Regions from separate parts of the Homo sapiens genome. Here region 2 is linked to region 1. The links come from fine-mapping of genetic effects on gene expression. A gene starts in region 1. The other region holds a variant in brackets. All regions are shown on one strand. Distances are between the middles of the regions.

The links. PIP is the estimated chance that this variant, and not a neighbour inherited with it, causes the effect.
Region 2: its variant is fine-mapped to the expression of IDH1 in nasal epithelium (TOPMed, PIP above 0.99).

The regions. Positions count from the first base shown.
Region 1 is chr2:208,253,355-208,256,063 of GRCh38, reverse strand. It overlaps IDH1 (isocitrate dehydrogenase (NADP(+)) 1), which reads left to right and starts at 993. Exons shown (of 10, transcript NM_005896.4): 1 at 993-1,125; 2 at 2,105-2,178. IDH1-AS1 (IDH1 antisense RNA 1) reads right to left here and starts at 831. Exons shown (of 2, transcript NR_046452.1): 1 at 633-831; 2 at 1-161. RefSeq lists an enhancer at 759-1,285 and a silencer at 1,739-1,848.
Region 2 is chr2:208,177,906-208,180,922 of GRCh38, reverse strand. C2orf80 (chromosome 2 open reading frame 80) reads left to right here. Exons shown (of 9, transcript NM_001099334.3): 6 at 107-178. Among named protein-coding and RNA genes, the nearest start is that of C2orf80, 11 kb to the left of the region's middle. The variant T/C (reference allele first, on the strand shown) is at 1,425.

The sequences.
Region 1 (2,709 bases):
AGGCTTCACATCTCTAGTCCAACTTCATTGGATCACAGATAATCCCCCGCCAACTGAGCATGGTGGCTCACGCTTGTAATCCCAGGACTTTGGGAGGCCGAGGAGGGCCAATCACTTGAGTCCAGGAGTTCGAGACCAGCCTGGGCTGCTGAAACCCATCTCTACCAAAGGAAAAAGAAAAGAAAAGAAAGAAAGAAAAATTAGTTGAGTGTGATTGTGTGCACCTGTAATCCCAGCTACTCGGAAGGCTGAGGTGGGAGGATCTCTTGAGCCCAGGAAGTCAAGGCTGCAGTGAGCGGTGATCGCTCCACTGCACTCCAGCCAGGGCAACAGAGCAAGGCCCTGTCTTAAAAAAGAAAATAATAAGAATCCCATTCATTATCTTCTAATGCAAACAATCAATGGAGTTTCTAAAGACCTAGACATAGGTGGTGTCAGGACCTGCTTCTGTAACTTTTCCATCCTTTGCATTAGGCAGCGCGGAACCCCCTAGGCGACCCCGCGCTGGCCGGGAGCACTCTTTCTTCAGCCAAAGGTACGTTCCATTACCGCCCCTCGGGGGCGCGCTAGGCAGCGGGCCGGCCAAGCTGCCGCCGCCCAGGGCGCCCTGTCCCGTTCGCTTTTGTGCCGACCTGGAAACACTCTGTGGTGCTCTAGATTGTTACAAAGTTCGGGGTGGTGCAGCCCCAGCGCGCCCCGCTCCCCGGCCTGCAGGTGGCATACAAGTCTCTTCGCTGTCGGGATTCGGGACTGAATCTCTGCCGGGCGGCAACCCCTTCCCCCACCGGGATCACCGGGAAAGTGGCACCATGGATTCTCCATCTTTGACTGTGGCCACGCCCCTCTCGCTGACTCCGCCCATCCCACGGGAATTGGCGTGTGGCGATTGGAGGCGTGTCGGGGGCGGGGCTGGGGGAGGTGGGCTGAGGAGGCGGGGCCTGGGAGGGGACAAAGCCGGGAAGAGGAAAAGCTCGGACCTACCCTGTGGTCCCGGGTTTCTGCAGAGTCTACTTCAGAAGCGGAGGCACTGGGAGTCCGGTTTGGGATTGCCAGGCTGTGGTTGTGAGTCTGAGCTTGTGAGCGGCTGTGGCGCCCCAACTCTTCGCCAGCATATCATCCCGGCAGGTAACCTCAGGCTCCAAGGGGCGGCCCCGGTCCCTGGCTGTGGAGGGGTGGCTCTAATTCCGCAGAAGGCAGGAATGGGGTAAAGGAAAAAAGCGCAGATCTTGGGTGTGGAGGGAGTCAAGGCCTGCGTGCAAAGAAGGGAACAAATCCAGGTATTGAGAATGGGAAAAGAAAAGGGAAGGAGGGGATGCTGGATGCTTGGATATGCAGAAGGTCTGCTTTTGGGCCTGGGAGGGAGAAACTGGGCGGTGAGGAAGTTGGATGCAACGACAAGGGGAAAATCAGGTCTGCACTTGGGTTGGAAAATCGAGGGGTGGAAGTTGCAAGAATGCATGTAGAAGACTAAGCCTGGAGTGTAGGAGGAAGAAAACGTGCAGCAGCTGGGGGCTGGATGCAAAGAAGGCTGTAAGCCGCAGACGGGCGTCTGCAGGCAACTCAGGCGGCGAGGAATAGCCTTGAAGCCGATCCCTCGCGTCCGCCAGGGGGCGTGGAGGGGCGGAGCTCCAGCGGCCTTCAGAGGGGTCGCTAGGCCACACGGGGCGAGAGGGGGCTGGGGGAAACACCCCCGCCAGTTCCGGGTGCCTGGAGTTTAAAAGGTCCCAGCACCAGCGAGGGGAGGGGAGGGGAGGGGCGGGCGTGGAGACCTGGAAGGAGGTACCGATCCAGCCTTGATTGCAGCCCTCTTGCACAACGGCCATAAGGACGGGTGCAGGCCAAGAGCAAGGACATGCAAACCCCAAGACCTGCTAACGGGCGGCGAAGCGGGGGCACGCCCTCGCACACGCAGAGATAAATTGTGCTCCCATGACCTTTATTTGGAAAGTGCCTGCGGGCCTAAAATTGGCCTTTGTCCCACCGAGTACACTCAGCACTGTACTTTAAACCGGATAAACTGGGCTGTCTGGCAGGTACTAAAAACAGCTAAATTCTCCTGTGAGTGTTCTGTATGTTAACACTTTTATTCCTTGTTTTGTTTTAGGCGATAAACTACATTCAGTTGAGTCTGCAAGACTGGGAGGAACTGGGGTGATAAGAAATCTATTCACTGTCAAGGTGAGAATTAGCAAATTTTCCCCCTTCTTCTGTACTTTCTTTGATGTGGCAGTACAGTGTTTAACTGGTCTTGGGGGCAGGCCGAGGCACTGCAAGGGAATGAGTGAGGAATATTTCCAACAACGAATTCCAACAGCTTCCTTGTTTCTTTTAATACAGTGTCTTATCTGCAAGAGATCCTTTTTGCCCAGAAATTATTGTAGTTCATGAACTCGGCAAAAAACAATCTGGCCAAAAACTTGAGGTTGATGAAAATAATATTAAATGGCTCTTTTTTTTCATTAAACTACTCTGTATTGTTATTCCAGGTTTATTTTCTGGAATTGCACAATTATGTTAGGAGATAGGATTCAGCTACTTCATATGAGCTGGTGCCTGCTGGTCTTGGAACAGCCCTTCCTTCTGAAGTTGGGATTGGGTTGGAGACAAAATCTGAGGGGCAACAAAGGTGGAGAAGTCAGTCCAGTGGGGCCTCAAGCCCATCCCATGGAAATCAGATCCAGAAGAAATACAATTATGTTCCACATGGTA
Region 2 (3,017 bases), 75 kb after region 1:
ACCCAAGCACAGTTTTAGACATACTGGAGCTATATTAGCTTTGTTTTATAATAAAAGAAAAGCCATGGTATGATCATACTTTGTTATTGCTGTTGTTGTTTAACAGAACAGTATCCCGATTGAGGAAGTCTTTAAAATTTATGGGGCTGATTCTTCTGCCGATTCTGGTACCATCAAGGTAAGGGTGACCTGGGATTGTCAATAGAAGGGATTTTTAGAGATAATTTATTTAGTGTATAAATGTATAATGTTGTATTTTCAGACATCAATTATGAAATAACAGTTTTACATCAAAATGTACAAAACCAGACATAACCATTTCTTACTTGAATAACGTGTGTGAAATGCCTTTCATATGTAAAAGACCATGCAGTAATAACAAATGTATCTTGTGTACGGCTGAGAAGGGGCAGCAATGAGTACCAGGCTTGGGGGCAAAACTTTACTCTGTTGTGGTTTTGTTTTTTTTTTTTGAGACAGAGTCTCACTCTGTCACCCTGGCTGGAGTATAGTGGTGCGATCTCGGCTCACTGCACTTCTGCCTCCTGGGTTCAAGGAATTCTCGTGCGTCAGCCTCCTGAGTAGCTGGGACTACAGGCATGCACCACCACACCCGGCTAATTTTTGTATTTTTTGGTAGAGATGGGGTTTTGCCATGTTGACCAGGCTGGTCTCAAACTCTTGGCCTCAAGTGATCTGCTTGCCTTGGCCTCCTAAAATACTGGAGTACAGGTATGAGCCACCATGCCAACCTCTGCTCTGTTTCTAATAAATGTAATTTTTCACGTACACTTTTTGTAATGTAGATCTGGTAGGTCCACACAGTTCCCTTCTATGATGTACTATATCTTCTAGAACTAGGACAAGATCCACAAGGCTCATTCTCATGACAAATTCCCTAGTTTACTGCTGATACATCTTCCTTTCCCACAACACTACTACATTTTTTAAAGACGGGTCTCACTGCTGGTCTCAAATTCCTGGTAATCCAGTAATCCTCGAAATCCTGGCCTCAGCCTCCTAAGTAGCTGGACTATAGGTGTGAGCTCCACTCTCAGCTCCTCCCATGAAACTACTTTGAAATCATTAACAGTAGAAGCAGCAATGACCTGGGAGTTCAGAGACCTGGGTTTGAGTTCTGACTCCACTACTATGAAACCCTAGATGCGTCCCTTTCCCCTTTCGGGCCTCCATATGACTGATCTTAAAAAAAAAAAAAGGGTGTTCTGAATAATTTTTAAGACCACTTCCATTTTTGCCACTTGTAAATGTATGAACATTAAGTAAACATTTAAATATGAACTGCTATTTAGAGGTGAACTACTGATCCCTTCACCTTTGGATACCTCCAGAAGAGGCAAGAGGAAAGGGAAGGTGAGGTGGCGAGGGCCATGCAGTGGGAGGGGGGAAGGGGGGCACCAACG[T/C]CCTCACGCCCAGGTCTTCTGCTCACACTGTGGCTTTCCCTGCCCCCACCTGGATTCAGAAGGGAGGGCAGGGCAGGGGCAAGGCTGTGGCCACAGGAATGCCTGCCTCCCTTATTCTTTTACTGCAGGTCATTGTGCAAGCAGTGGGGTCATGTAGAGTTCAAGAGCCCACCAGGTCCACCTTAGAAGTCAAGTGTTTACATTGAAACCAACTTTCCTATCACTTTAATCCATATGTAACCTGACTGTAGTCCTGAGACTCAAATGCCCTTGATCATTGTGAAAATCAGAACTTTCTCTCTGATCCCTCTAGTTTCAACTCACTTCATTCATTCACTCACTCATTCATTCACTCATCTGTTCATTCAGTATAATTGTAGGTGCAGGGGATACAGTGGTGAGCAAGTCAGACAAGATAACTTTTTAAAAACTTTTTTGCAGGCCGTTTGCAGTGGTTCATGCCTGTAATCCCAGAACTTTGGGAGGCCAAGGTGGGTGGATCACCTGAGGTCGGGAGTTTGAGACTAGCCTGGCCAACATGGTGAAACCCCAACTCTACTAAAAATACAAAAAATTTGCCAGGTGTGGTGGCGGTCGCCTGTAATCCCAACTACCAGGGAGGCTGAGGCAGGATAATCTCTTGAACCCGGAAGACGGACGTTGCAGTGAGCTGAGATCATGCCACTGCACTCCAGCCTGGACAACAAGAGCAGAAACTCCATCTCAAAAAACAATTAAAAAAAAATTTTAGGGATGGGGGTCTCCCTATGTTCCACAGGCTGGTCTTGAACTCCTGGGCTCAAGCGATCCTCCCACCTTGGCCTCCCCTAATGCTGGGATTACAGGCATGCATCACCACACCCAGCCAAGATTACTTTTCTTATAGATCTTATATCCTATATTGGAGCTTACCTTGTTTGAGATATAAGCCACCCCAGGCCTGACGCTCCTCAGAGATCAAGCTGTTCTTGGTTTTCAAAGAAAGCTCAGCTCTCTGTGTTCCTTGGATAGCCAAGCAAATCATACTGCTTTATTCCTGCTTGTCTTTTTCTGCAGCTTTCTCCCTTCTAGGCTGCCCTTTCTCCTTTTCCCCTACCCCTCAGCACATATACACACAAGCCTGAGCCCCAAACCCTTCTGTTTCAGTCACTGTTTTCTCCCTGTCACCTTCTGGTACCTGGGAGAGGTCTAGAAAGGCATCAGCACATCTGACTAGTTGGTCCCAACTCACATGGCTAAAAGACTAATATGGAAAAACACATCCTAGAGAGGATGGCACTGTGGACCCCTCCAGGTTTGGCTGGGTTATCAGTCAAGAAGGTTTGCAAACATGGGTGTCTGAGTAGCTCAGATAAATCAGGTTCATTTAAAGTTGCTAGAAGGCTGGGCGCGGTAGCTCATGCCTGTAATACCAGCACCTTAGGAGGCAGAGGTGGGTGGATCACCTGAGGTCAGGAGTTTGAGACCAGCCTGGCCAACACGGTGAAATCCTATCTCTACTAAAAACACAAAAAATTAGCGGGGCGTGGTGGTGCATGCCTGTAATCTCAGCTACTTGGGAGGCTGAGGCAGGATATCCTGGGAGGCAGAGGT